Linked DNA regions of Homo sapiens: all the other regions are reported to be linked to region 1. Evidence: microRNA targets listed by miRTarBase, many of them from high-throughput screens and not tested one by one. Region 1 holds a microRNA gene; each other region holds the end of a gene's coding sequence. Distances are from middle to middle.
Evidence for each region. The annotated mature microRNA hsa-miR-519a-5p reads CUCUAGAGGGAAGCGCUUUCUG and lies in region 1 at 2,386-2,407, shown strand. An mRNA with a match to its seed (bases 2 to 7 or 8) in the 3' UTR can be bound and repressed. Matches are read on the target gene's strand: a 7mer-m8 pairs with bases 2 to 8, a 7mer-A1 pairs with bases 2 to 7 and ends in A, and an 8mer does both.

Region 2: the mRNA of NCAN is a reported target of hsa-miR-519a-5p. Seed matches in the 3' UTR shown: 7mer-A1 at 3,288-3,294.
Region 3: the mRNA of TAF7 is a reported target of hsa-miR-519a-5p. Seed matches in the 3' UTR shown: 7mer-A1 at 4,224-4,230.
Region 4: miRTarBase lists NFATC3 as a target of hsa-miR-519a-5p. Seed matches in the 3' UTR shown: 7mer-A1 at 1,047-1,053.
Region 5: miRTarBase lists TNFAIP3 as a target of hsa-miR-519a-5p. Seed matches in the 3' UTR shown: 8mer at 1,927-1,934.
Region 6: the mRNA of SV2C is a reported target of hsa-miR-519a-5p. The part of its 3' UTR that is shown has no 7-base or 8-base seed match.

What each region holds. Positions count from the first base shown.
Region 1 is chr19:53,684,099-53,689,171 of GRCh38, forward strand. MIR519C (microRNA 519c) reads left to right here and starts at 2,371; the gene lies at 2,371-2,457. It overlaps MIR515-2 (microRNA 515-2), which reads left to right and starts at 911; the gene lies at 911-993. MIR1283-1 (microRNA 1283-1) reads left to right here and starts at 4,383; the gene lies at 4,383-4,469. The region is part of intron 2 of LOC107985342 (a long non-coding RNA gene); the gene reads left to right.
Region 2 is chr19:19,249,106-19,254,178 of GRCh38, reverse strand. NCAN (neurocan) reads right to left here. Exons shown (of 15, transcript NM_004386.3): 15 at 1,946-4,413. The coding sequence ends at 4,268. Among named protein-coding and RNA genes, the nearest start is that of HAPLN4, 11 kb to the left of the region's middle.
Region 3 is chr5:141,314,461-141,319,533 of GRCh38, forward strand. It overlaps TAF7 (TATA-box binding protein associated factor 7), which reads right to left. Exons shown (of 1, transcript NM_005642.3): 1 at 4,030-5,073. The coding sequence ends at 4,535. Among named protein-coding and RNA genes, the nearest start is that of TAF7, 3.8 kb to the right of the region's middle.
Region 4 is chr16:68,225,843-68,230,915 of GRCh38, forward strand. It overlaps NFATC3 (nuclear factor of activated T cells 3), which reads left to right. Exons shown (of 10, transcript NM_173165.3): 10 at 508-3,417. The coding sequence ends at 629. ESRP2 (epithelial splicing regulatory protein 2) reads right to left here. Exons shown (of 15, transcript NM_024939.3): 13 at 4,999-5,073; 14 at 4,547-4,712; 15 at 3,191-4,473. The coding sequence ends at 4,384. Among named protein-coding and RNA genes, the nearest start is that of MIR6773, 5.1 kb to the right of the region's middle. RefSeq lists an enhancer at 1,595-1,644.
Region 5 is chr6:137,880,932-137,886,004 of GRCh38, forward strand. TNFAIP3 (TNF alpha induced protein 3) reads left to right here. Exons shown (of 9, transcript NM_001270508.2): 9 at 104-2,381. The coding sequence ends at 388. Among named protein-coding and RNA genes, the nearest start is that of WAKMAR2, 15 kb to the left of the region's middle.
Region 6 is chr5:76,324,833-76,329,905 of GRCh38, forward strand. It overlaps SV2C (synaptic vesicle glycoprotein 2C), which reads left to right. Exons shown (of 13, transcript NM_014979.4): 13 at 532-5,073. The coding sequence ends at 715. Among named protein-coding and RNA genes, the nearest start is that of SV2C-AS2, 16 kb to the left of the region's middle. RefSeq lists an enhancer at 600-1,099.

The sequences.
Region 1 (5,073 bases):
CACGGTAGCTCAGGCATGTCGTCTCAGCACTCTTGGAGACCAAAGCAGGCTAATCACCTGGAGTCAGGAGTTTGAGACCAGCCTGGCCAAGATGGTGAAACCTCATTTCTACTAAAAGTACAAAAATTAGCCGGGCGCGGTGGCTCACGCCTGTAATCCCAGCTCTTAGGGAGGCAGAGGCAGGAGGATAGCTTGAGCCCAGGAGTTTGAGACCTGCCTGGGCAATACAGTGAGACCCTGTTCTCCACAAAAAGAAAAGAAAAAAAAGAAAAAAAAATTTTAAAAATGCAAAATTAGGTGGGCATCGTGGCACGTGCCTGTAATCCCAGGTACCCCAGAGGCTGAGACAGGAGAATTGCTGGAAACCTGGAGGCAGAGCTTGCAGTGAGCTGAGATCACGGCCCTGCACTACAGCCTGGGCAACAAAGTGAGACTTGTTTCAAAAAAAAAAAAAAAATTTATTGAGGAGCTTTTATGGCCTAGCCTGTGTTCTATCCTGGAGAATGTGTGTACAACAGTGTATATTCTTAAACATCATCTTAGATTCCATTTTGGATGCTTGCATGGGGACTGTGTGTCCCTGTACTGGGACTTATGTGAACACTTGGCTTCAAATCCATTGCTGTTCTCTAGAAATCCAGCCCAATTCTCATGGTTAAATATAAGGTATGTGTGGTAGGCATTGCTTTTTCTCTTTGGGGACAGAACTCAGGAGGATTGTCTCTTGATGAACAAGGCTAACCTGCTGAGCCTTTGAAGCAAGGAACTGGAGATGGTCCTTTTAGGGGTTTATATTCTGGATTCCAGAAAACATGCAGAGAGAGTCAATAAATGTATCTTTATTTTTGTGTCCATTTTAACCAGGTGAGGAAAATTCCGTCAAAAAACCCAGACTTTTGGAGCGAGAAGATCTCATGCAGTCATTCTCCAAAAGAAAGCACTTTCTGTTGTCTGAAAGCAGAGTGCCTTCTTTTGGAGCGTTACTGTTTGAGAAAAACCACGTTGAAGTTGATGCTGATCTTGGTAACACATTTGCAGAGCGTGCTTATCATCAGACTTGCATGATGTTGGGGTTCTGTTTTTGTTTAGTTGTTTTGCATCATGGGGTCTCTGTTGCCCAGGCTGGAGTGCGGTGGCGCTTCCAACCTAGATCTCTTGGGCTCAAGTGGTCCCGTGCTTGCTTTTTTTTTTTTTCTTGAAACAGAGTCTCTGTCTCTGGCCCAGGCTTGAGCGCAGTGGCATGTTATCTGCTCACTGCAACCTCTCCTCCCAAGTAGATGGGATTACAGGTGCACGTGCCACGACGCCTGGCTAATATTTGCATTTTTAGCAGAGATGCAGTTTCATCATGATGGCCAGGTTAGTCTCCAACTCCTGACCTCAGGTGATCCGCCTGCCTCAGCCTCCCAAAATGCTGAGATTATAGGTGTAAGCCACCCAGCCTAGCCTCCAATTTTTTTTAATGTGTGCTGCCAATGCAAGCACATATGTGTAGGAATTATTTTTCATGTGAGCACATAGTATATGGAACTTAATTTTTATTGATGTACGGTCTCAAAAATATATATTTTATCATATTCTTATTATACATGTAACATAGTCATATACACACAAAACACTCTTCTATACACAGAGAATACTCTCGTATCACTTTGGGTAATTTTTTGTTTGTGTGTGTATGTTTTTGTTTTTTTTTTAGATAAGGTCTGGGTCTGTCACCCAGGCTAGAGTGCAGTGGTGCCATCTCAGCTTATTGCAACCTCCACCTGCCACTTCAGCCTCTTGAGTAGCTGTCTACAGGCGCACACCACCACGCCCGGCTAACTTTTCTGTTTTCTCTACACATGAGGTATCACCATGTTGCCCAGGCTGGTCTCAAACTCTTGAACTCAAGTGATACTCCTGCCTCAGCCTCCTAAAGGGCTGGGTTTAGAGGTGTGAGCCACCACACCTCACCTGTACCTGTGTGTTTCTGCTCATTTTATTGAGGAGCTTTTACAGCCTGGCCTGTGGTCTCTCCTGGAGGGTGTTTGTGTGTGTGACAATGCATATTCTTCAACATCGTAGATTCCATTTTGGATGCCCCCGTCGGGACTGTGTGTCACTGTACTGGAACTCGAGTGAACACTTAGCTCAAAATCTATTGCTGTTCTCTAGAATCCAGCCCAATTCTCATGGTTAAATATAAGGTATGTATAGTCGGCATTGCTTTTTGAAACAAGGAACTGGAGATGGCCCTGATAGGGGTTTATGTTCTGGATTCCAGAAATCATGCAAACAGGGCCAATAAATGCATCTTTATTTTTGTGTCCATTTTAACCTGGTCAAGGAAAATTCCAACAAAAAATCAATGGTGCTGGAGCAAGAAGATCTCAGCCTGTGACCCTCTAGAGGGAAGCGCTTTCTGTTGTCTGAAAGAAAAGAAAGTGCATCTTTTTAGAGGATTACAGTTTGAGAAAAGCAACGTTAACGTTCATGCTGATCTCGGCAATACATTTGCAGAGCGTGCTTATCATCAGACTTGGATGAGGGTGGGCTTTTGTTCCTGGTTTGTTTGTTTTCTAAGACGGGGTCTCTTTTGCCCAGGCTGGAGAGCAGTGGCACTTCCAACCTAGCTCTCTTGGGCTCAGGTGGTCCTCTTTGCAGGGTCACGATCTCTGCTCACTACAATCTCCCCTTCCCGGGTTGAAGTGGTTCTCCCATCTCAGTCTCCTGTGTTGCTGGGAGTACAGGCCCATGCCACCACGCCCGGCTAATTTTTGTATTTTTAGCAGAGATGGGGTTTCACCGTGTTGACCAGGATGGTCTCCATCTCCTGACCTCGTAATCCACCTGCCTCGGCCTCCCAAAGTGCTGGGTTTACAGTCATGAACCACTGCACCCGGCCTTTGATCTTAATTTTCAATATGAGACCCATCATGAATTTGGGCATCACCTCTGCACAGGGGCCATGGTGATCTCTGTCACTCCATTCATTTCTTATGTGTGGAGCAAACATTTATGTGTAGGAGTAATTCTTTATGTGAGCATACAGTATATGGAACTTTCTTTTTTTTTGAGATAGGGTCTGGAAAATAAATGATGTACAGCCAGGCGCATGAGTATATGAGCAGTTTTTGTGTGTATACGACATGAGCGGTGGCTCATGCCTGCAATATCAACACTTTGGCAGGTTGAGGCGAGTGGATCACTTGAGGTCAGGAGTTTGAGACCAGCCTGACCAACATGGTGAAACCCTGTCTCTACTAAAAATACAAAAAATTAGCCAGCTATGGTGGCGCACGCCTGTATTCCCATCTGCTGGGGAAGTTGAGGGAGGAGAATCACTTGAACGGACAGATGGAGGTTGCAGTGAGCCAAGATCACGCCACCACACTCCAGCCTGGGCGAGAGAATAAGACTGTCTCAAAAAAAAAATATATATATACATATATATTTATATAGAGAGAGAGACTCTGTCTCAAAAAAAAAAATATATATATGGGTGTGTTTGTGTGTATATATATATTATATATGATGTATATTTCATCATATAGCCATATATATAATTATATACACAAAAAATACTCTTCTACACACAGAGATGACTGATATCACTTTGGGGTGGTTTTTGCTTGTGTGTTCTTTTAAATTTTTTTTTGCAACAAGATCTGGCTCAGTCGCCCAGGTTGGAGTGCAGTGTTTCAGTCTTGGCTCACTGCAACCTTCGCCTCCCACCCCAGCCTCCTGAATTAGTGTCTACAGGCATGTACCACCACACCTGGCCTACATTTGTATTTTTTTACAGACAGGGTTTCACCGTGTTGTACACGCTGGTCTTGAGCTCCTGAGCTCAAGTGAATCTCCTGCCTTGGCCTCCTGATGTGCTGGGATTAGAGGTATGAGCCACCACACCCAACTGGTACTTGTGTATTCCTGTTCAAATTTTATTGAGGAGCTTTTACCACCTAGCCTGTGGTCTATCCTGGAGGATGTTTGTGTGTGCGACAATGTATATAGTTCAACATCTTAGATCACATTTTGGATGTTTCCAATGGGACTGTGTGTCTCCGCACTGGAACTCAAATGAACACTTGGCTCAGAATCCATTTGCTGTTCTCTGGAAATCCAGTCCAATTCTCTTGGTTAAGTATAAGGTATGTCTAGTAGGCATTGCTTTTTCTGTTTGAGAACAAAACTCGGGAGGATTGTCCCTTGATGAACAAGGCTAACCTGCTGAGCCTTTGAAGCAAGGAACTGGAGATGGTCCTTTTCAGGCGTTTTATTCTGGATTCCAGAAAACATGCAAACAGGGCCACTAAATGCATCTTTATTTTTCTGTCCATTTAAACCTGGTCAAAGAAAATTCCAACACGAAACCCAGAGTGCTGGAGCAAGAAGATCTCAAGCTATGAGTCTACAAAGGAAAGCGCTTTCTGTTGTCAGAAAGAAGAGAAAGCGCTTCCCTTTTGAGGGTTACGGTTTGAGAAAAGCAGTGTTGAAGTTGATGCTGATCTTGGTAATACATTTGCAGAGCATGCTTATCATCAGACTTGGATGATAGCGGGGTTATGTTTTGGTTTTGTGTTTTTCTAAGACAGGGTCTCCGTTGCCCAGGCTGGAGTGCGGTGGCACTTCCAACCTAGCTCTCTTGGGCTCAAGTGATCCTCTTTTTATTTATTTATGTATTCATTTTTGAGATGGAGCCTGGCTCTGTCACCCAGGCTGGAGTAGAGTGGGATGATCTCCACTCATTGCATCCTCTGCCTCCCAGGTTCCAGAAATTCTCCCACCTCCGTGTCACTAGTAGCTGGGATTACAAATGCTCACCACTATGACCTGCCAGTTTTTGTACTTTTGGCACAGACGGGGTTTCACCATGTTTGCGGGGCTGGTCTCAACTCCTGACCTCAAGTGATCTGCCTCCTTGGCCTCCCACAGTGCTGGGGATTATAGATATAAGCCACCGTGCCCGGCCCATTCCTGTCTTTTTAATTTAATCTGCTCGTCCCTGACATCGAAAATTTTTCTTGCTTAACAGCTTCCACTTATTTCTCGGAATAGACCTTTTTCTGCAGGAAGGGTGTAGTTGAT
Region 2 (5,073 bases), 34 Mb from region 1:
CCAGGCTGGAGTGCAATGTCACGGTCTCGGCTCACCTCAACCTCTGCTTCCCGGGTTCGAGCGATTCTTCTGCCTAAGCCTCTAAAGTAGCTGGGATTACAGGCGCCTGCCACTGCGCCCAACTAATTTTTCTGTTTTTAGCAGAGATGGGGTTTTACCATGTTGGCCAGGTTGGTCTCGAACTCCTGACCTCAGGTGATCCACCTGCCTTGGCCTCCTACGGTGCTAGTATTACAGGCATGAGCCACTGTGCCCAGACTAAAACTCGCCGTTTTCATAGTGATTTCCACATTTTCTTAGAGATGGGGCCAATTTATACTCCACAGGTAATAGATATACTCACCTGGCTGGGCATGGTGGCTCACGGCTGTAATCCCAACAGTTTGGGAGGCCGAGGCGGGTGGATCACCTGAGGTCAGGAGTTCGAGACTAGCCTGGCCAACATGGCAAAACCCCATCTCTACCAAAAATACAAAAATTAGCCCAGCATGGTGGCAGGCACCTGTAATCCCAACTACTCGGGAGGTTGAGGCAGGAGAATCACTTGAACTGAGGAGGCGGAGGTTACAGTGAGGTGAGACTGCACCACTGCACTCCAGCCTGGGCAACAGAGCAAGACCCCTTCTCAAAAAAAAAAAAAAGTACTCACCTGTTCCACACATCCTCATTAGCCTCATGTCTTGTCACTTTTTATTTTTGTCAATCTGATAGGTGAAAAATGGTATCTCAATGTGGTTGTTGCTTGCGTTTCTATTTGTGAGGTTGAACATCTCCAACCACCACCACCAACTTTGACCTTAGGTGCAGGCGGTCGAGCAAATCGTAAATCATTCACAGTTCAAGCACATTATCATCTTTGATATATGCAAGGATCTTTTTTTTTTTTTTAGATGGAGATCACTCTATCACCCAGGCTGGAGTGCAATGGTGTGATCTTGGCTCACTGCAACCTCCACATCCTGGGTTCAAGCGATTCTCCTGTTTCAGCCTCCTGAGTAGCTGGGATTACAGGTGCGCATCACCGCACCTGGCTAATTTTTGTATGTTTAGTAGAGACAGGGTTTCACCATGTTAGCCAGGCTGGTCTTGAACTCCTGGCCTCATGTGATCTGCTCACCTTAGCCTCCCAAATTGCTGGGATTACAGGCGTGAACCACCATGCTGGCCATCTTTTGATACATTTGTTTATTCTCTTATATTTTTATGTCCTTCCTTGTGAATCTAGATGTTCTTGCAAAATGTGTATTATTTTATTGAGTCTATATTGTAGTTTTAGAGCTGCTATTTCCTTTTTTGTAAACTTTTTTTTATATCTTTTGCCTGCTTGGCTAATGGATTTGTCTTTTTCCTACTGATTCGAGTGAGCCCTTCTTTTTTTTTTTTTTTTTTTTTTTCTGAGACGGAGTCTCTCTCTGTTGCCAGGCTAGAGTGCAGTGGCACCATCTCAGCTCACTGCAACTTCTGCCTCCTGGGTTCAAGTGATTCTCCTGCCTCAGCTTCCTGAGTAGCTGGGGCTACAGGCGCATGCCACCATGCCCAGCTGATTTTTGTAGTTTTAATAGAGACAGGGTTTCACCATGTTGGCCAAGATGGTCTCGATCTCTTGACCCTGTGATCCGCCTGGCTCGGCCTCCCAAGGTGCTGGGATTACAGGCATGAGCCACTGCGCCCGCTCCCTTCTGCAAGAAGACTTTTGCTTTCACTCTTTCCTCTGAGTGGAATGCCTTTCCTTTCTTTCTCTCCTCATCTAGTTAATGCGACTTCTTCTTTAGATTCCATTCCCCTCCTCGGGGAAGCCTTCTGTGACTACCCACTAAAGACCAAACCTTCTCTGTTCACCACTATCTCCCCAGCACCCAGTACAGTACATGGATCACAATAGCTGCTCGGGTAAATACTTGCTGAATGAATGAATGAATGAAGGTATCAGGTGGTGACGGGCAGGTTGAACTGTTAAAAAATTTATTAAAATGTCCAAGAAGTACATTAATGTCCACAGTGTCAGATACCACAGACCCACAGAACACTGCAGCTCACAGCAAAACCAGCAGGACCCAAAGCCGTTCACACGCACACACACTCATATGCGTGCCACGCACATGGCACACGCAGACACACACGCACATCCAAAAGGGAAAGATCAAAAGACAAACCGCCCACTTTAGAAAAGACCAGAGCCCCCTCCCACCATGGAGCCGAGGTGGGGGCAGGGCAAACGGCTGAGGGGCTCAAGGGCAGGGAGCATAAACCAAGACCCCCCAAAAAACACTGCATCCCCAGCCCCCCGCAAACAAAGGAAAATTTTTGTGTGACATAGATGACCAAAGATGTGTTATTATTATTATTTTAAACTAAGAAGAGTTATCAAAGTAAGAAGACAAACCTGTATCCCTGGGTTTTCTGAATAATAACCATAATAAGATAGATGTCTACAGGGAGGAAGATTGAAGACAAGGATAAGGGTTCAGTTTACACTTCTTAACCATTTCCTAAATGTGTATGAGGGTGCAATTATATTTCAATCTCCTCTCCAGAGTCCAGAGCAGGATTTGGGTCAGAACCAAGATGGGAGTTGGCTCTGACTTCTGGATTTGGAGTAAGGATTTGGTGATGGAGAGAAAGTGTAAGCAGAGCCAGAGTAAGGATTTGGTCCAGAAAACAGGACCAAATCCTTATTCCAAATCCTTACTCCTGTCGTGGTTGTGACTTCAAGCCAGTACCTTTCCTTTATATCTGAGCCTCAGTTTCACTGTGTGTAAAATGGGAAAGTAACAGTTTCTAAGTCAATGGGCTATTGAGAAGATTCAAGGAGATTGTATGTAAGTCTTTAGCATGGTGTCTACTTCTTAGTTGTCAATGGTCATTATTACTTCCCAGAAGGGATTCAGGCTCAGTTAACACATTTCTTTCTTTACTGAACCCCTAGGTGGACCATTCATTTGCTTATTTTTCTTTCCTGAAGAGGGCCATTCTCCACGGTGCTTTTTTAACCCTGATCCACAGATTTTACCCGGACTGCTGAAAGTGAGTAACAGACATGGAGGAAAAGCTGTGGATCTTTCCTGCCAGAGATGAGGGAACTGGATCCTGGCCCCTGGTGTGGAGAGACCTTTTACAGGTTGCACATTTGGGGGAGGAAGGCAAGGTGAGTTCTTTCCCACTTAAAAAATTAAAATCTACAAGAGAAAAATGTGTGTGTGTGTGTGTTTGTGTGTTTCAGTTTTAACACTGAGCATCTCTCTACAATATGACCGCAGGTAGGTGTCACTACTTCAAGTTTTAAGTGTTTCTAGACCACCAGGCAATGGCCAGGGACAAGGGTGGGGTGGGGCAGGAGTGGGACCCAGGGCAGGGGCACTACCAATGTCTGCTTAAGGACTGGGTATGTGCACTGGGCTAGAAAACTTGGCAGCACCTCCTTGGTCCAGGAAGGAGGTTCTTTGTCTCCCTGAGAGATGGAGGGGGAAGAAATCTGGGCTCATCTAGCCCTAAATATCCTCTCGTCTATTTGTGTGAAAGAGATTCATCACACATGCAGAACCACCAAATCTCAGCGCTGGACTAGACCTGGAAGGGTTAGCAATACACTCTCCCTCCATCACCTACATATTGCTTTGATCATTCTCACTCCTAACTCTGAAGGCATGGAGGGAGGTTGTCCTAAAAACATCCCTAAAATGCAGTACGTGGGATCTCCACACTGTGTGTTTATCCACCAAGACCAAAGACGGAACTTGGGCTGAAGTCCAGGGTAAAGGGAGAGCTGTTGTCAAGTTCAAAAACAGTGTGCTTCTGTGTAGCCTTCTATTCCCAAAGCTAATGACCCTACGTCCAGGCTTCTTCCTGGATTTAGGAATTCAGCCAACATTGACTAAGTCTGAATTTCTGGTGTGAAAAGCAATTCCTTCATGTGAATGCAAACATACACTCATGCACCCTCATCAAGGCCTGCTTCAATCAGCCTGGCAAACAAGAGACCAGACCAATGAGCTTTGCTACTTGTGCTTCCCTCAGCTGGGACACACTCCCAGAGTTCAGCCAGACGAGAATGAACTTTTCAGACACCTGGCTCCACCTGCCAAGAGGATCTTGTGTATGTAAAAAAAGGGAAAAGAGGAGCTTTGTACAAAGGATTATGTGTGTGGGGGATGTGGTTTGGGGTTCAGGGACTTCTGGACTCTCTTGTTTCTCTCTGGGTTCTGTCTCCCCAGGCGAAGGCTCCAGAGGAGGCATGGGAAAGGTGTTGTGCTTTCTTTTTTCTGGTTCTTCAGCAGAAATTCCCTTCGTCCTTCTCCCAGTCCTCCGTTGGGTGTTTCTTGTGTTTTCTGCGCTCCTTGCGGGATTTGTGGTGGTGATGCTGGTGGTGGTGTTGGTGGTGGTGGTGGTGTCGCCGCATCCGATGTGAACGTCTGGCTGCAGGGAAGTGAGGGAGGACAGGGAAGGGACAAAAGGTGGTGAGAGGCAGGTGGCCTGATGCAGCGGGTGTCCTTGGGAGAGAAAGTAGAGGAAAGAGGCCAGACGCGAGGGCTCATCCCTGTCATCCCAGCACTTTGGGAGGCCAAAGTGGGAGGATCTCTTGAAGCCAGGAGTTTGAGACCAGCTTGGGCAACATAGCGAGAACCTATCTCTACAAAAATAAAAAAATTAGCCAGGCGTGGCGGCACATGCTTGTAGTCCCAGCTATTTGGGAGGCTGAGTTTGGAGGATCCCTTGAGACTGGGAGGATGAGGCTATAGTGAGCTGTGATTGAGCCTCGCACTCCAGCCTGGGCAACAGAGTGAGGCTCTGTTTCAAAAAAAACAAAACCAGGCCGGATGTGGTGGCTCACGCCTGTAATCCCAGCACTTTGGGAGGCTGAGGTGAGCTGATCACATGAACTCAGGAGTTCGAGATCAGCCTGGCCAACATAGTGAAACCCTGTCTCTACTAAAAATACAAAAATTAGCCGGGCATGGCAGTGGACACCTGTGATCCCAGCTACTCAGGAGGCTGAGACACAAGGATCGCTTGAACCCGGGAGGTTGCAGTGAGCCGAGATTGTGCCACTGCACTCCAGCCTGGGCAACAGAGCAC
Region 3 (5,073 bases), not on the chromosome of region 1:
AAGGGTTGAGTTGGGCCTTCAGTGACAAAAAGCTATCCATGAGAATATCTGGTGACTATTCCAAGAAAAGAGAACTGTAAGTGCTAAACTGTAGGAGGAAAGAGCTGAGTAAATTTGTTTATGCTGCAGATAAATTTGAAGCAAACCGTTTCTGCTGTAACCTAATTTATAAGCTTTCATTTAGAATTTTTTTTCCCATCTGAATTTGGTTGAAACTGATCTCTAAAATTTCTTAAATTTGAAAACAATTACATTTAGAATAGTTGTTTCCCTATAAACACTTTTTCTAACATTTCAGTCACTCTTTAATTATTTAGTATCTGTTATGGTCCATACCTTAATGGGTTGTAATAGTGGTAAATTTACTTCTGTTGTTTACTTACTATGTTCCAGGCATTGTTCTAAATAAGTCATTTATATGATTCAGCAGCCAGCAGCCAACAGCCCAATAACCCTATGAGGTAGGTAGTATTATTGCCTCCACTTTGGAGATGAGAAAATTGAGGTAAACAGATTGCTACCTGTGCAAGGTCACACAACTAATAGGTAACTGAGCTAGGATACGAACCATGCATGACATGTCTTGATGTTAAGATTTTGATCTTTCTACTATTCTTCAGTAAGTTTACAGTCACTAATGTAGCAAAATATCTCAGTAAATTTAAAGCCAAGCAGGAGATACGAACAAAGGTAATTTACACTTTAGTTATAACAGATACTCATCCCAGTAGACCGTGCAGTGCATGAGTTTATAGACACTAAATGCTTTGTTCATCACTGCATATCCAGTAGCTTGTAGTTTGGTGCGCGCGCACACACACACACACACACACACACACCCCTTGTAGTTTGGCACACACACACACAAAATGTTTGTCAAATAAATGAGAGAGGGAAGAACAAAGTGCAAAGCCGTAATAGGGTTGCTTAACCTAGAGGGAGAAAAGGGTCAGAAAAGCCTTGCTGAAGTCACTTAGGTTGAGACCTGAGGGTTAAGTAGGACTCAGACAAAGGGTAAAGTCATCTAGGTGGAGTGAACTGCTTGTTAAAAGGATCTATGGCCCAGGAGTGGGAGAATGAGTAAGCTCCTTGAAAAAAATGTAAGTTCAGAGTGGACTGACCATATACTGAATGCGGAGCTGAGGCTGAAAAGGTAAATGGAGAACTCATAATCTTGTGCATCTTTTTGAGAAATACAAACCTAGCCCTGAGAGCAATGAGATGTCACTGAAGGGTTTTCAGCATGGTAGTAACACAATCAAATATGTCTCAGAAAAATGAGTTTGGTGGCAGTGAAAACTAAATTGGATGGTAAAGAAGCTATTGCCATTTGATAGATAATAATAATGGCTTGAAATAGGACAGTGGCTGTAAGGATGAAGTAGAGTGAGTGAAGAACTTCTTAAGTAAAATCAAAAGTAGCAAGGGAAAGGGAGAAATGTAAAGTTATGGCTCTAGTGTCCAGCTTCCACAGTTGGGATGTGTGGTGGTGCCATTTATTTTTACTGGAACCCAGAAGGAAAAGCAAATTTTCAAGGAAGAGGAAAAGTTCCATTTTGAACCTGTATTTTTTTTTTTGAGATGGAGTTTTGTTCTGTTGCCCAGGCTGGAGCACAGTAGCATGATCTCGGCTCACTGCAACATCCACCTCCCAGGTTCAAGCTATTCTCCCACCTCACCCTCCCAAGTAGCTGGGATTACAGGTGCCCACCACCATGCCCAGCTAATTTGTTTTGTATTTTTAATAGAGATGGGTTTTGCCATGTTGGCCAGGCTGGTCTTGAACTCCTGACCTCAGGTGATCCACCTGCCTCAGCCTCCCAAGGTGTTGAGATATAGGCATGAGCCACTGCACCCGGCCATTTTGAACATTTACACTTGAGTTGCCTGAGAGATACTTTCAAGTATGTTTCTAGTACACATCTGGCTAAACTAAACCTGAAGCACAGAAGAATCAAGGTTGGAAACGTGGATTTTAGAATCCACTTAGAACTCATAACTGAAACAGGAATAGTGAGATCAATATACTATTTTGTTATTGTATCCAGAATCTTTCCTTTCTGTTATTGATGGAACTGCCACCATTGGTGTTGAGACCTTGGTAAGAATAAACTACTTGATAAATGATCCACTGTAAAGCCAGATATGGTGGGAGCTTTTCAGGTGTCAATCTTCTAAGTGTAGCAAAATACCTAGATTACAAAAACAGTAAATTTTGTCACCTAGCATCCTAAACTGTTTTTTTGTTGTTGTTTAATATATATTATTTGGAAACCTCAAGAAATAATATAAAACCTAGATATTGAGGGAAACCTTGCTTAAGCTTACATATTCTGTGCTAAAATCCTAGTCACGGCCAGGCACGGTGGCCCACGCCTGTAATCCCAGCACTTTGGGAGGCCGAGGCGGGTGGATCACAAGGTCAAGAGATCAAGACCATCCTGGCCAACATGGTGAAACCCCGTCTCTACTAAAATTACAAAAATTAGCTGGGCTTGGTGGCACATGCCTGTAGTCCCAGCTACTCCAGAGGCTGAGGCAGGAGAATCGCTTGAACCCAGGAGGCAGAGGTTGCAATGAGCCAAGATAACGCCACTGCACTCCAGCCTGGCAACACAGCAAGACTCCATCTAAAAAAAAAAAAAAAACTTACTCATAAAAACGTTTCACTTAAAAAGATAAATTAGCCTTCTGAAGTCTGCAAATGTCAGCATATTTAATTATAGACCTGAGGACTAGGTAACTTTTTTTTTTTTTTTAACATTTCAATACTGTTTCTTGTCAGATAGAAGTAAAATGGACTTTAGGCCGGGTGTGGTAGCTCAGGCCTGTAATCCCACCACTTTGGGAGTCCAGGGTGGGCAGATCACCTGAGGTCATGAGTTCAAGACCAGCCTGACCAACATGGTGAAACCCTGTCTCTACTAAAACTACAAAATTAGCCAGGTGTGGTGGCACATGCCTGTAATCCCGGCTACTCGGGAGGCTGAGGCAGGAAAATCGCTTGAACCCAGGAGGCAGAGGCTGCAGTGAGCCGAGATCACACCACTGCACTCCAGCCTGGGCAACAATAGCAAAACTTTGTCTTAAAAAAAAAAAAAAAGAGGCCGGGCGCGCTGGCTCATGCCTGTAATCCCAACACTCTGGGAGGCCAAGGCGGGCAGATCATGAGGTCAGGAGATCAAGATCATCCTGGCTAACACAGTGAAACCCCGTCTCTACTAAAAATACACAAAAAAATTAGCTGGGCATGGTGGCGGGCACCTGAGTAGTCCCAGCTACTCAGGAGGCTGAGGCAGGAGAATGGTGTGAACCCAGGAGGCGGGGCTTGCAGTGAGCCGAGATGGTGCCACTGCACTCCAGCCTGGGTGACACAGCGAGACTCCGTCTCAAAAAAAAAAACTTTAAATATTTTCAAACCCAAGCTTCTCATAAACCAACCTGTCAAACAAATTGCATACAACTCTGCCTCTTTTATCAGTAACTGATTTTTCAAAAATAGCTTATGTTGTGAGGCATTAGATTATCTTTAGAGCATGAGAAATTTGGTACCAACTTCCTTTATGAGCAATTTTGATGAAATGACATTGATAAATGACCTCAGTTCTCAGAATATTAATTATAGGAACTCAACTGAAGAAAATTAGAAATATTAATCCAAACCAATGGAATGGTTCATTGGACTGCACTTGATAACCACTGCTTTGTTTCCAACATTTTATGCAGGTAGATTTAGCGCTTTTTAAAAAAGGCACAAAGGCCTTCATCTACAAAAATTAGGGTACTTTAAGAAAGCTCTGTATCTAATGTTTCCCAGCTTTCAAGTAGATCAAATAGAATTGGAATCTTAATATGATGCAAACATGACCATTCCCAATTTCTTTACCCCTGCTGTGTTCCTTTTTTTCATAAACCCTACTGCCTCTACCTGCAGAACGGGATCAAATTGCTTAGTCACTAAACTCCACCATAAAACCACCTCACAAGAGGACCTGACTCCCACCAACCATGAAAGAACAAGATACACTATAAAGTGAAAAACAGATGCTTTTATTTATTGTATTGGAAACAACTTAATAATTTGCATCTCTACATATAGAAAGCTGCTTTGAATAACTGGGAAAACAATTATTGCATAGGAAAACATATGCAAACTAGCATCATTGTCTCTAGACTAGGTTCTTCTTATTGATCTCACGTCATCACAAAGCAGCAACAGCAGCTTCTAGAAAATGGAGAAACAGTAAAGTCCTGCAATGAAGCTATAATTAAGGTTGAACCATACATTCCGCTAATCCTGCAACTTTCCTACAATCATTTTTCTGCCTATACAATCCTGCTTCTTATAGGATGAACACCTAGCAAAACAATATAAATTTGCTGAAAAACAAAATTACAAACAAATGAAAGAACTTAACAGAACACACAGCATTAAAAGGACTAGGAAGAGCAAGGTCTTAATACCCAGTACAATAAAGCCAAGAATTTTCTAATGCTGACCAGTCTGAAGACTGAAATTAAATATCAGTTCTTTTTACTTCTCTAGGAGTGATTCTAGCTCCTCTTGCAAAGAGCTGAGTTGCTCCTTTTCTCGGTCTTCCTTTTGTTTGAGCTCATCCAGTACAGCCTGAAATCTGTTCTTGAGAGCCAGATTTTCCACTTTCATGATGAGATCCTCTTGTCGTTTTGCCCTGTCCTGGGTCTCTTGGAGCTTGCCTTTCATGTTGTCAATCTGCTTCTGAATTCCCATAACCAGCTGATTGGTTCCTTCATTTTCCTGGTGCTGTTCATCTGATTCATTTAGCTTGTCCTGTAGCTGTCTCTCCAGATCTTCCTCCGTGTCAATGATGTTTATATCTTCTTCATCTTGATGCTGGGTCTCATCTTCATCCTCACTGCTGCTGCTGAGGTCATTGAATATCTCCCGAAGCTCATCATGTTCTAATGAGTCATGGCCCTGCCTGTGACCAGACATTCCTGGAGAAGAGATATCCAGGCCTTGATTTTCTGCCTCCTTTGTTTCATCTTCGGCAATTATTTCCCACCGAGTACTAACAGCTTCAGCATCTGTAC
Region 4 (5,073 bases), not on the chromosome of region 1:
AGAGAAATTAACAGAAAAGCTAGAGCCTCCAATCAGAAAAGATCACAAACAACAGAAATGCCCCCACATAATAAAGAGTGCTTGTATTAGGATACAGTAGCAAAATCACCCCCACATCACAGTGGTTTATTCTGACCAAAGCATTTATTTTCATTCCATTTACATAGGAGGTGGCATTGTAGAAAATAAAAACTTTCTCAAAGAGATATGAATTAAAGAAAAGTTAGAGTAAGGTGAATACTTATTTAAACATACCTTTAGAGTGAGGGTAAGCCCCCTTCCCAACCCAAAATGAACTGAATGAGAGAGAAAAAGAGGTCCAGAGTAGTTTGTGGAGCGATGTTTCCATCTCTAATGCCACTCAGCTCAGGAGCAGGCTTCAGACACTGCCTTTATCTTTACAGAAAGCCATGGGAAGGGAAATGTCTGAGGTAGAGCTCAGCGTTGGGCATCATATGGCTAATCACTCAGAGGTCACTAATCACTCTCCCTTTTCTTGTTTTTCAGTGAACGAGATAATTGGGAGAGACATGTCCCAGATTTCTGTTTCCCAAGGAGCAGGGGTGAGCAGGCAGGCTCCCCTCCCGAGTCCTGAGTCCCTGGATTTAGGAAGATCTGATGGGCTCTAACAGTGCTTACTGCAGCCTTGTGTCCACCACCAACTTCTCAGCATGTTTCTCTCCTTGGACCTTGGGTTTCCAACTCTGCAGCCTTCAGGTCTGGGGCCAGGAGTGGGACCCACCATTTGTGGGGAAAGTAGCATTCCTCCACCTCAGGCCTTGGGTAGATTTGGCAAAAGAACAGGAGCAGCATAGGCTGTTTGAGCTTTGGGGAAATGAACTTTGCTTTTTATATTTAACTAGGATACTTTTATATGATGGGTGCTTTGAGTGTGAATGCAGCAGGCTCTCTTGTTTCCGAGGTGCTGCTTTTGCAGGTGACCTGGTTACTTAGCTAGGATTGGTGATTTGTACTGCTTTATGGTCATTTGAAGGGCCCTTTAGTTTTTATGATAATTTTTAAAATAGGAACTTTTGATAAGACCTTCTAGAAGCAAAAAAAAAAAAAAAAAAAAAAAAAAGAAAAAAAAAGAAAAGAAAAAAAGAAAAAGAAAAAAATATCCCAAGCCCACACCTATGCCTCAGAAAGTCAGCATGTGTCCTGAAGACGTTCATAGATTTATAGGAAATAAAGCCAAATGTAGCTCATACCTCTTTATAAAACTAAACTGTTGTTAGATAAAATGAGAAGAGACCATTCCATCATTGAAGTGTTGGAATATAAAAAGACATTCCAGAGCATAGCCTTTTGGTAACTTTCTAGGTAATCTTGCAATCTCTCCATACTGGCTCCATGTTGAAATTGCTTTTTCCCTCAGGACCCTGGGTAAGATGGCTACATTTAAGGTGACTCTGAATGGTGGGGTTCTAGCTTGGTCACTTTCATTTCTTGCCATCATAAAAACTAGTAGGCTGTGGAGTGCGCTTCCTGTTTGTGTCATCTGGTCGTAGAACCTTTTCCAAACAGAAGCATCTGCCTTTGGCTGTTCTGTGACCTTTGAAGCCAGTCTCAGTGGTTTAGGCAGCTTTGCAGTTCTAACTCTAGCTAGAGGCCAGGCTGTGTGCAGAGCTAAAGCACAAATGAGCAGTACATCAGCATGGGCAGAGAAAATACAGGACTCCAGATGGGAAGGTTTTAAGAGTCACACTGGCATGGAAGGCTTATCTGCCATTCTATTTATAGCCTGAAATGATTCTGGCCTACCCTGTCCTGTCTGTATGATCTAAAAACCAGCCTTTTCCCCAGAAGGCTCTGAGCACATCCAGAAGTGATAACCTGACCCTCCACACCAAAGACACCCTGGTGCTGCTGCTGGTGAGACTGGTGTCCAAGGCAGGGCCCAGCAGAAACTGCAGCCTGCTGTCTACCAAAGGAGGTACCCGAGTTGGGTACTTTAAAAAAAAAAAAAACCTGCCCTTACCCCTCTCCCTAATGGGATTTTTTTTACCTGTTCCTGGGCCCATTACAGAGCCTCTGAAGTTTGCAGTATGCTTTCAAATGAAATAATATACTTCCATTGATTCAGGAAGCAGATTTTTTGAGTGCCTATATGTGAGACAGTGTGCTGGTTGAAGGCCTGATGCTGTTATTCCAGGAGACTGCAGGCCCTTGATGCCAGGACTCTCTCTACTAAGGCCAGTTCAGGTCTGGGAAAGGGAGCTGGCCTATTGCCCACCACCTGTTGTCAGTAGGTTAGGAGCTGTTGACTCAGGATGAGGAAGTATGGTCTTTAAAAAAAACAAAATATATTTTAGATTTCTCCCCTAAAGTTAGTTAGAGAAAAAGGTCTATTCTTCAGCAGATCACTGTGGCCCCTCTTGGAGCTGGGTGTTTTCAAATTTTCTTGAAAAGTGAGTTGTGTCACAGAATGTGGATAGTGAGATTTGCTTCTGGGCCTGTGGTTGGACGCCCACAGCTTCCTTTGGAGGGGCAAGAAGTTGGCCTCTCGGTTGACATTCCAGAGAAATGGCCAGACTTGCCCCTACCCTTTTGCCCCTGGTGTAGCTGCCTCACATGAGGTTATTGCAAGAGTTCCCCTTGCAATACCCTTTGTGCCCTCAAGAATTAAAAGCCTCTATGATCCAGAGTTGCTATGCACCAAATTTTGATGCCTTCTAAATACCTTGATGCCTGTAGCACTAGAAATGCTTTCCTATTTAAAATAAACATTAAATTTTAAAATAGAGCTTTGTATACTATGTAAGCAGTTTTATATCAGCTTTGTAAAAGCTTTGGTGTTAAGAGTCAATATTTTTTGGCTTTGTAGATAAAGACTTAAATTTTTGTGCAACATAGTGGTGTTAAAGCACACATCCATTGGACTATGCAAATCAATTTCTACTAGCAGCACTGAGCAACTGGGCACGTGCTAGTACGCACCCCCTCCTACTCTAACTGTGCTAGCTCTTGGGTTGAGGAATGGAATGGGTAGCCTTCTGCTTACTGGAGATGCACAGAGAAACATGGCTGAAAACAGCTTTAAAAAGAACATGTCTTTGGGTTCATGTGTGGTGCTGCTGCCCGGGTGTAAACTATCCCCACCCAGGGCCAGCCATTATCACCAGACCTCTTCTGGGCCTGGCTGTGAAGCCCTGTTTTTGGTATTCAGAATGGATCTTTAAGGCTCAGATGGGCTCAAATTGAAACCTTGTGTTTTATAAAATGGATGTTTAGTAAAGGAACTGGTTCTCAGTTATGTTTACAGCACTTGGAATTGTGTGTTCTTGTACATTTTGTATTTTAAAACCTTTTATGGGAGTGCAGTGCTCCTTACACAAATACAAAGGGAAGAAGAGCCAGCAGTTGAGGCTCCTCAGTTTTAGTGCTGAAATAATAAACAGTGACAGGTCAACAGTATCCTTAATCTGTCTGAGTGTTCCTCCGCCTGGGGTTGGTGTGGAGCCCCTCACTTTGGGGCAAAGTTAAGGGTCCTGTGTCTTTTAAAAAGTCCATTTGGTCAATAACTTTTCATTTAAGGAAGAGAAGATCGAGTTCCAAATTGCTTCCGAGGCTTCAGTTCTGTACCATTTAATGCGTGCAAAGGACATTCCATGGTGTCTGCTGGGTTCAGGGCAACTGGCTTTCCCAAGGCATACAAGAAAAGTTGGCAGAAAGTCCTCCCCTTTAAAATTCAAGCCTGAAGGTTTTGTGTGGGGGCCTACTGCCCCCTAATGTCTTCTGGTGATACTGCAGCACAGTCCATCAAAATAGTTTGTGGTTTTGCCATCTGTTACTCCTTATGCCCACCTGGAGAGGGGCTAGCATCTTTAGGTGGGACCACCCCTGGCACAACATGGTCTCTGAGGTCCAGATACTCTGAGGGTAGGGGCTGGCTCTCTCTGCCTCCCTATCCCCTACAAGAGGGACAGGGAGAGGTAGAACATTGGGATCTTTACTCAGAGGCTCAGATGGACCCTTGATTCTCCCAGGAGTCATACATTGAAGGTACCAGAGCTTCCATTTTATAAAAGAAAGCAAGCCTGCCGTGGACCTGTCAGCCCCACGATATCTGTCGGCATGGGCCACAGCCAGGACAGACTTAAGGGCTCTCCAGGTGCCAGTCAAGATGCCTGGCTCAGGCCATCAGGAGCTGGTTAGCCCCATTCCACCCCCAGCCCTGCATGCAGGGTCCAGCCATTGTCTTTGGGGGAAACAGGCAGAATAAGTGGAGGATGGAGCTGGGGCTTGGGCTCCTCTAGGTACCTTCTGAGAGCTTTGACAAGCCAGAAAGAAGCTACCAGGTTGAGGGTGCTGGTCTTCTGGACTCAGGAGAGACATGTTCGCCGAGGATATCAGCTGGCTCTTACCTCCTGGCTTTCTCTCCTACAAACACACCCATTCCTTGGGGGCTTGTAACACAGTGCGAGGTGGGTCACCAACAGGCATCAGACTGGTGTAGTCATCAGCGGGTAGCTACAGAAGGGACACAGATTTAGGGCAGAGAGCTCAGCCAGACCCGCCAGGCCCTCCGGCCACACAATCTCACCTGGTAGGCCTGGAAGACGCTGAGCAGATCCTTCATACCAGCCGTGTATGGGACACCCTGCATGCGGACCAAGGCTCCTGACTGGGACAACACTGAGGTGGGAGCAGAGGCCAGGGCAGCAGTGGGTGTAGTGAGGTAGCCCACAGTGGTGGGGGAGACTGGGGGGCTAGGGTGGGAGAGACAAGGTTTAGTCATGCATGCCACCTGTGGCCTAGACCGAGACCTGTTTCCCTCCTCCCTTGTTTCTGCCTTGTGCTTAATTCAGTTCCTCCCTGAAGCCCCAGCCTCTACAGAGTCATTTTCGATCTGTTTTGTAGATGGCATTAGCCAGCTGCCACCTTACTCCCTTGTCATCTCAAGGGAGGAGTTATCTGGTCCAGAAAGGGGATCGTGACCTTTCCCCAGATTGGGACAGGGAGTGGGACTGTGATATTCTCTTAGCTGCAGGGTACCTTGGGTAGTAGGCTGTGTAGTTCAGGTAGAGTTGAGTGGCTGGCCCTGGATAGTAGGCAACAGGGGTGGGGGCA
Region 5 (5,073 bases), not on the chromosome of region 1:
TGTAGACTCCACACTCTCCAATGAGATTTCATTGTGCTCTCCCTAAGAAATGTGAGCAATAGTTTCCTGACTTTTTAATGATCTGCCTGTTCTTTCCACTCAGAGATCGAGCCAGCGCAGAGATGTGCCTCGAACCACACAAAGCACCTCAAGGCCCAAGTGCGCCCGGGCCTCCTGCAAGAACATCCTGGCCTGCCGCAGCGAGGAGCTCTGCATGGAGTGTCAGCATCCCAACCAGAGGATGGGCCCTGGGGCCCACCGGGGTGAGCCTGCCCCCGAAGACCCCCCCAAGCAGCGTTGCCGGGCCCCCGCCTGTGATCATTTTGGCAATGCCAAGTGCAACGGCTACTGCAACGAATGCTTTCAGTTCAAGCAGATGTATGGCTAACCGGAAACAGGTGGGTCACCTCCTGCAAGAAGTGGGGCCTCGAGCTGTCAGTCATCATGGTGCTATCCTCTGAACCCCTCAGCTGCCACTGCAACAGTGGGCTTAAGGGTGTCTGAGCAGGAGAGGAAAGATAAGCTCTTCGTGGTGCCCACGATGCTCAGGTTTGGTAACCCGGGAGTGTTCCCAGGTGGCCTTAGAAAGCAAAGCTTGTAACTGGCAAGGGATGATGTCAGATTCAGCCCAAGGTTCCTCCTCTCCTACCAAGCAGGAGGCCAGGAACTTCTTTGGACTTGGAAGGTGTGCGGGGACTGGCCGAGGCCCCTGCACCCTGCGCATCAGGACTGCTTCATCGTCTTGGCTGAGAAAGGGAAAAGACACACAAGTCGCGTGGGTTGGAGAAGCCAGAGCCATTCCACCTCCCCTCCCCCAGCATCTCTCAGAGATGTGAAGCCAGATCCTCATGGCAGCGAGGCCCTCTGCAAGAAGCTCAAGGAAGCTCAGGGAAAATGGACGTATTCAGAGAGTGTTTGTAGTTCATGGTTTTTCCCTACCTGCCCGGTTCCTTTCCTGAGGACCCGGCAGAAATGCAGAACCATCCATGGACTGTGATTCTGAGGCTGCTGAGACTGAACATGTTCACATTGACAGAAAAACAAGCTGCTCTTTATAATATGCACCTTTTAAAAAATTAGAATATTTTACTGGGAAGACGTGTAACTCTTTGGGTTATTACTGTCTTTACTTCTAAAGAAGTTAGCTTGAACTGAGGAGTAAAAGTGTGTACATATATAATATACCCTTACATTATGTATGAGGGATTTTTTTAAATTATATTGAAATGCTGCCCTAGAAGTACAATAGGAAGGCTAAATAATAATAACCTGTTTTCTGGTTGTTGTTGGGGCATGAGCTTGTGTATACACTGCTTGCATAAACTCAACCAGCTGCCTTTTTAAAGGGAGCTCTAGTCCTTTTTGTGTAATTCACTTTATTTATTTTATTACAAACTTCAAGATTATTTAAGTGAAGATATTTCTTCAGCTCTGGGGAAAATGCCACAGTGTTCTCCTGAGAGAACATCCTTGCTTTGAGTCAGGCTGTGGGCAAGTTCCTGACCACAGGGAGTAAATTGGCCTCTTTGATACACTTTTGCTTGCCTCCCCAGGAAAGAAGGAATTGCATCCAAGGTATACATACATATTCATCGATGTTTCGTGCTTCTCCTTATGAAACTCCAGCTATGTAATAAAAAACTATACTCTGTGTTCTGTTAATGCCTCTGAGTGTCCTACCTCCTTGGAGATGAGATAGGGAAGGAGCAGGGATGAGACTGGCAATGGTCACAGGGAAAGATGTGGCCTTTTGTGATGGTTTTATTTTCTGTTAACACTGTGTCCTGGGGGGGCTGGGAAGTCCCCTGCATCCCATGGTACCCTGGTATTGGGACAGCAAAAGCCAGTAACCATGAGTATGAGGAAATCTCTTTCTGTTGCTGGCTTACAGTTTCTCTGTGTGCTTTGTGGTTGCTGTCATATTTGCTCTAGAAGAAAAAAAAAAAAGGAGGGGAAATGCATTTTCCCCAGAGATAAAGGCTGCCATTTTGGGGGTCTGTACTTATGGCCTGAAAATATTTGTGATCCATAACTCTACACAGCCTTTACTCATACTATTAGGCACACTTTCCCCTTAGAGCCCCCTAAGTTTTTCCCAGACGAATCTTTATAATTTCTTTCCAAAGATACCAAATAAACTTCAGTGTTTTCATCTAATTCTCTTAAAGTTGATATCTTAATATTTTGTGTTGATCATTATTTCCATTCTTAATGTGAAAAAAAGTAATTATTTATACTTATTATAAAAAGTATTTGAAATTTGCACATTTAATTGTCCCTAATAGAAAGCCACCTATTCTTTGTTGGATTTCTTCAAGTTTTTCTAAATAAATGTAACTTTTCACAAGAGTCAACATTAAAAAATAAATTATTTAAGAACAGATTGTGATGTTTTCAATTGATGAATGCTGAAAGAAAAAGAAAGGCTTGGATATTAAGACTGTGCTTCCTAAGCAGCTTTATTTTGAGGTGCACCTGAGCAATGCACACATCTCTCATCCATGGTAGCAAGGCAGCTTTTCATAAATAATAACTGTATGAGGTCCAGGCCCAGTCCTCAAGCACAAGCCCCCGCTTGACAATGAAGACACTCTTCCTCTGATGGGAAGAGGAAAGGGATGCTAGGACCCTGTGGCCCTTTTAAGCTTCCTGCCCTAAACTTTTATAAAGTGAAGAAAGAGAAAACAAGAGGGAGGAGGAGGGAAAGACAGGAAAGAGAGAAGTAGGCAGGCAGGAAGGAAGACTGATGTAAGATCTCCTGGGTCAGACAAAGCAGAGGAGGCAGCGTGGCTGTGCTGGCTGCCAGAACCAGGAAATTAAAAAATAACACATTCCTCCATGCGCAAGCCTTCATCCCCACCTCCCATCCAGTACAAATGGACTCACAGACGACTGATTCAGCAGGACTGCGCAGCTCCCAGAATCTACTTTTTTAAGCTCCTCGGGTGATCTGGATGATCAGCCAGATTTTAGAATCACACTTTAAAAAATATATTTATAATTTTTTTTTAACTTTTTAAAAGTAGAAAACTTTAATAAGAAAGTGACAAGTACTATAAAGAGCCACTCTATAGCCATCCTCCAGTTTCAATAATTACCAACGTTCTGCCCAATTTGTTTCATCTATCACATCCTCTTTTTTGTTTTTCCTGGACTACTTGAAAGCAAATCCCAGATATTGTGTCTTCATACCCATAAATATTTCAGTGTGCACCTCTAATTGAATAGAATATGTCCTTTTAACATAACCACCATTATCAGAGCCAGCTAAATTATTTTATTCTTTAATATCCAAATTCCAAGTATGTATTCTAATTTCTCAGTTTATCCACCATACAAGACAAAGTCTTATTGCTTTCGTTTAGTAAGGATCTTTTCTTTTTTTTTTAATGTTTAGCAATATTTATTAGGACGTATACCTACCTTATGATCCAAAAATTCCAATCCTAGGTATACACTCAATGGTATACACTCTACTCCTAGCTATACACCCATAAAACAGAAATGCATGCATATGTTCACCAAAATATGGTACTAAAATGTTCATCTCAGCAGTATTCATAATAGCTCCAAACTACAAACGATCCAAATGTTCATTAACAGGAGAAAAGAGAAATATATTGTGGTATATTCATATAATGGATTATCATATAGCAGTAAGAGTGAATAGGCACCTGTAGTTCCAGCTACTCAGGAGGCTGAGGTGGGAGAACTGCTTAAGGCTACAGTGAGTTATAAGGCTCTATTTATTTATTTATTTATTTTTGAGACAGAGTCTTTTTTAAATTTTTTTTTATTATACTTTAAGTTCTGGGATACATGTGTAGAACGTTCAGGTTTGTTACATAGGTATACATGTGCCATAGTGGTTTGCTGCACCCATCAACCCATCATCTACATTAGGTATTTCTACTAATGCTGTGCCTCTCCTAGCCCCCCTACCCCGTGACAGGCCCCAGTGTGTGATGTTCCCTTCCCTGTGTCCATGTGTTCTCATTGTTCAACTCCCACTTATAAGTGAGAACATGCAGTGTCTGGTTTTCTGTTCCTGTGTTAGTTTGCTGAGAATGATGGTTTCCAGCTTCATCCATGGCTTTGCAAAGGACATGAACTCATCCTTTTTTATGGCTGCATAGTATTCCATGGTGTATATGTGCCACATTTTCTTTATCCAGTCTATCATTGATGGGCATTTGGTTGGTTCCAAGTCTTTGCTATTGTGAATAGTGCCCCAATAAACATACATCATACATGTGCATGTGTCTTTATAGTAGCATGATTTATAATCCTTTGGGTATATACCCAGTAATGGGATTACTGGGTCAAGTCGTATTTCTGGTTCTAGATCCTTGAGGAATTGCCACACTGTCTTCTACAATGATTGAACTAATTTACACTCTCACCAACAGTGTAAAAGCATTCCTATTTCTCCACATGCTCTCCAGCTTGTGATGTTTCCTTTTTTTTTTTTTTTTTTTAGATGGAGTCTCACTCTGCTGTCACCCAGGCTGGAGTGCAGTGGTGTGATCTCAGCTCACTGCAACCTCCATCTCCCGGGGTCCAAGCGATTCTCCTGCTTCAGCCTCCTGAGTAGCTGGCACTACAGGCACCCGCCACCATGCCTAGCTAATTTTTATATTTTTAGTAGAGACGGGGTTTCACCATATTGGCCAGGCTGCTTTCGAACTCCTGACTTTATGATCCACCTGCCTGGACCTCCCAAAGTGCTGGGATTACAGGCATGAACCACCATGCCCGGCATTTCCTGACTTTTTAATGATCGCCATTGTAACTGGCATGAGATGGTATCTCATTGTGGTTTTGATTTGCGTTTCTCTAGTGACCAGTGATGATGAACTTTTTCTCATATGTTTTTTGGCCGCATAAATGTCTTCTTTTGAGAAATGTCTGTTCATATCCTTCACCCACTTTTTGATGTTTTTTTTTTTTCTTGTAAATTAGTTTAAGTTCTTCGTAGATTCTGGATATTAGCCCATTGTCAGATGAGTAGATTGCAAAAATTTTCTCCCATTCTGTAGGTTGCCTGTTCACTCTGATGATAGTTTCTTTTGC
Region 6 (5,073 bases), not on the chromosome of region 1:
AACATAGCAAGACCCTATCTCTACAAAAATAAAAATAAAAATTAGCTGTGTATGGTGGTGTGCACCTGTAGTCCTAGCTACTCAGGAGGCTGAGGTGGGAAGATTGCTTGAGCCCAGGAGTTTGAGGCTGCAGTGAACTATTACTATGCCACTGCACTCCAGCCTGGGCAACCGAGCAAGACCTAATCTCTATAAAAATGAAAAAGACCCTTCCTTCCAACAACGTTAAACCACTAGAGATGTTTCGTACTCCCTACAATTTTTTCTCTCTTTCTGTTCACAATACATTGGGACTTACAGGCAGAGTAAGAGTCAATGGAAGCTATGGTAAGAAAGTCAACAGAGGGCTGGAGGAACAATACCAACAGCTAGGATTCTCTACTCCCAGATTTGCTAACAAGCATTGATTTGCTCCACTGATATACAACACAATCTGAGGGAAGATCATTGAAAATCTAGGATCTTTTGGTCTAAAGTTGGAATCATGGGGAGGCATTTTCTCAACCTTGTTCATGTCTCTTTCCTTTGCAGGGCAACAGGCTTTGGCTTCTTAAATGCGCTATGCAAGGCAGCAGCCGTCCTGGGAAACTTAATATTTGGCTCTCTGGTCAGCATCACCAAATCAATCCCCATCCTGCTGGCTTCTACTGTGCTCGTGTGTGGAGGACTCGTTGGGCTGTGCCTGCCTGACACACGAACCCAGGTTCTGATGTAATGGGAAAAAAAGCCATCCTTCCTGCGTTTCTTCCTCCTGCCCTGGGTCAATTCTCCTTCCTGACTCAAGGCTTCAGAGTTTTCCTATATAGAAAGGTGATCAAGTATCAGAACATAAACACGTGCTGTGACTTAAAATTTAGAAGCATATCATCTTGCCCCTTTGTGATTTTGCACAGGTTGTTTGTTTGTTTTGTTTTGTTTGAATGCATTGTTATCTTTCCAAACTGTGATGCTACTGCCTCCCGCAAATCAGTGGAAGCATTTCTAAAATGCCCTAGGCAGCCAGGCTTCCCTGGGGTTCTGCTCATTGAAAGTTTAGAAGCTAAGAAGACTGGGCTGGTGTAAGAAATAGATCCTGCTCCTAATTTAACATTAACAGGAAATATAAGTCGGCACATTATTGCATTTGTGCTGAGAAGAGGGATTCTTTTTTTTTTTTTTTCTAACAGAGTGATATTTCCTGTTTACTTAGAAAAGGACACCCAGTAATTCTCACTGTTATAGCAGAGCCTTTCAAAGAAAACCATGTGGCACCAAACAGGGCTGGGTGGGGCTCTTTGGGGCAAGACAATTAAGGTGACCGCTGACAAGAAAAATAAAAGCTCTGCAATTAGCAGCAAAAATCTGAGTGTGCTGCATAAGCAAGATTTCTGTCAGAAAGCCCAATTAAACCTCTGAAAAGTGTGAGGAAAAAGAACTGTAACAGTATCTGTGACTGTGGCATGTGGTTCAGAATGTTTGAAAATCAGAGATCCGAGAGAGAGCTTCTGCCTCCATTTACCACTCCCACTCCTTCAGCTGCCCTTGGTCTTGCCAGACAGCAGATTCAGGGAAAGAAAGCTGCTTCTTAAAAACTGTCTGCCTACCTGATTCTGCCACTTACCCACACTGTCTCTAGTCTAGAGATTGCCAGTGGATAGCTAAATTGTAAATTGCAAATTAGGAAGAAATTCACACCCAGAGCCATTTGGAAATACAAAATGGTACCTCTTTCCAGTACCTCTTTGCTGTGGGACTGGCCCGCCAGGACCCCCACCCCACCTGGCCCGCAGTTGACATTCAGCTTCCCAGCTGGCATCAGCAAAGAGGGTTTGTCCCTCTAGCTTCCCCAGGGCTGGCCCACTGCTCAATGCGCTCCTGGCTCCCTGTAAAATCACAGCCCGCCTGCACTCCTGAGGGCCCCTCTCACAGACAGACCATCTCCCTGTGGTTGTTTGACTGCTCATTTTACCTCTGGAATCTGCCTGGGCTTGGAAGAAAGAGGTCAGCCAGGACATTCCCACGGGCCCGCTGTCAGCTACATGACCTTCTCGCCTCTCAGGCTCCCCTTCCCCCAGGCTCGTCCTTTTTACACCTCTTCTTTGAAATCTGAACCTTCCTTGTAGACTTGCAGCCAATGACCAGAAGCCAGGAATAAATCCCATATTTAAACAATATTCCTTTTTTAACTGCCTCGATAGAGGTTTATTCTTGTTACTTATTATAGGCATTTTCAGGCAAGCCATAGCTTGGGGCCTCCAGGAAGGGAAAGCTTTTGTTTCCACTGATCATTATTTTCAGAGATGTCCTAACTCCCCTGAGGCCCCCCTGCCTCCCCCTCCCCTTCCTAATGATCCCTCGCAGAGCTCAGACTAAGTGAAAAGCTTCTTTCATTAACATAAGCCATTAATCGACTTCCCCTTGAAGTAATTCAGGTCTGCAGAGGGGGGAAGACTGGTGTTGGGGGCAGTGGGAAGAGGGTGGTTCCCTGGGGGTCTGTGATCAGGGCTAGAACATCAGGAAAACCCGAACCAAAAACTGCAAAGGTGGCAGGAAGAAGAAAAATCACTGAAGGCTAGACAAGATGCATTTGAAAGATACCAACCGCACAGGGAAAGAAACAACTTTCTCTCACTTCTGCCTCCTATCATTTTATTGGAGAACAAAGACAGCAGTCAAACAACCCAAGAAAGTACCCTGTATGTTTTTCTTCTTCCACATGTACCCATTTTCCCACCTATCTCTCCCTGATTTGTCTTCTTTAAAAAGACATTTGGGGACCTGAGCAGGTCTTTTAGTTGAATGCAGCATGTGCAGAAATAACTGCAAAAGCCAGGAGTGCATCTCCATCAACCCATCAAAAGAAAAATAGAAATGTACATGGGCATCGCTGTCTCTAGTCCTCTGTGATAGTTCACTTTGCTAACTAGACTACCTTTACTTTTCAAAATATCTCTAATGTCTGCTCTGGGGTCTAAATGCATAAAACATCTCCCAAGCTGCAGAGCACAGTTATTCAGAATTTTATTTGAACACTGGGTTGGGTCAGCATAGGATAAACCAGCAAAACCTTACTTCATGAGACCTGCCATCCGTGTCCCCTGCAGAAGGACCGTTCTTGGCCTACTTGTTACCTAATCCAAGCATCCTTGGTGGCCTAAGAGGGATCTTTTCTCATCTCCTGGACAGTCTGTGGTCACAAACCTTCTTGGTCACCACCTCTCCCACCTTTTGTGCACTCTTCCCTGCCTCCTTGAGACTGTTCATCACCTTGATTTTCTAAGAGAGCTCAAATCATTTCCAAAGCATGTGGTGTGGCCTGTATAGCTTGCTCCAGATTTAGCTGGAGATTAAGAAACAGCCAGGATATTAAACAGAAACTCTCAGTTGTATCAGTGTAGCAGGCCACTGGCACCTAAACACGCAACTGGCATCTCATTTCGCCTACAGTAGAAGGAAAATGAAAATTTGTACAAAAATGAAAACCTAGGAAATAGTCCACTTGCTCCTATATTTTTACCACCTTTTCTAACTAAAATTTCCCTGTTGCTCTTTGGAATCAATCCAGAATGCTCCCAAGTCCCATTATTATCACAGAATCTTCTCAGTAGGGAAAAACAAACAACTGCTTCAAACTGTGAATTCTGTATGTACCACATTCTATCCCAGGTATTGGGTTTTAAGGCACCCAACTCACATTCAGTCCTGCTGCCTGAATCATCTCACACCAGAGTACAGACCTTGGAGACGCGATAGATGGGTCCTAGCCTGACCTTCACCACTAAGCGGTACAGGGACCCAGATCTTGCTGTGGAGACTGTAAGTCGTTGAACATCTCTAGTTCTCACTTTCCCCGTGCACAAAATAAAGGATTGGGACTAGTCTGCTCTCCACTCTCCAGCATTGTAGAAGACAGTAATGAAAATAGCTTCATCTTATCTGCCTTCTTATGCTAAACTCATTTTTTTTTTTTTTAGGTGGAGTTTCACTCTGTTGCCCAGGCTGGAGTGCAGTGGTGGGAACTCTGCTCACTGCAACCTCCGCCTCCCAGGTTCAAGTGATTCTCCCACCTCAGCCTCCCAAGTAGCTGGGACCACACGCATGCGCCACCACGCCCAGCTAATTTTTGTATCTTTTAGTAGAGGTGGGGTTTCACCGTGTTGGTCAGGCTGGTCTCGAACTCCTGACCTCAAGTGATCGGCCCACCTCAGCCTCCCAAAATGCTGGGATTACAGGCGTGAGCCACTGGCGGCCTCAACTCATTTTTACAAGCACTAAATAGGTTTAGTTTATAAACTGAAAAATTAGGAAATAGGCACGCATAAAAAGAGTGTAGGAAGTTGTTTGGGAAGCCCGCATGGAATAGGCCAGAAAGCACAGTCCCCATGCTGTCTGCCCTGCCAGCATCTCAGCATCCTGACTAGTATCTCTGTTCACTGCAGGTTTGACAGTTACCATCACCCAGCCAGAAAAGGGCCCCGCCTTGCCAGATAAACGCGCTTAGGTTAGAAGACTATAATTGCAATATTACCCTACAGCTCTCCTGACTGTTTATTCCATTATTTTCTTGAAACATGGCCTTAAGTATTATACATAGGCTTCAGAAACAGTTTTTCAGTGATTTTACCTATATTGGCAAATAGACAAATCTCACCAAATCAGAGTTCAGGTTTTCACCAAAAACTGCTTAGTTGTCTTTCAAGATACCTTAAGAGATCAAAGGGGAGGTGGGAAAAGAAATGTAGTGACAGAAGGGAGAGTCCAAGATACCACTGATAAGGTTCCAGCAAAGAGATTAGGACACAGCAGAGACTTTCTAAATGCTGGGGTCATTTCCAAAGCAGTCCAGGGGAATACTTTCTGATTCCCTCTGCCAATCAAAATAGATAGAATATGATATTCTCCAATTTTTTTTCTGTTTGATGTCAAAATGGCCTTTACCTATTTCTTCAGTAATATACCTGATCTGTTCATGCACTAAAGGCTCTGGAGCCAGGAATGTCTGAATTTGGCCTTCACCTGGTATCACAGAAAGACAACTGGGATATTGGTGTTAAGGGGCATATCGGCTGTATGTTAGGTTTTCTTTAATCCTCA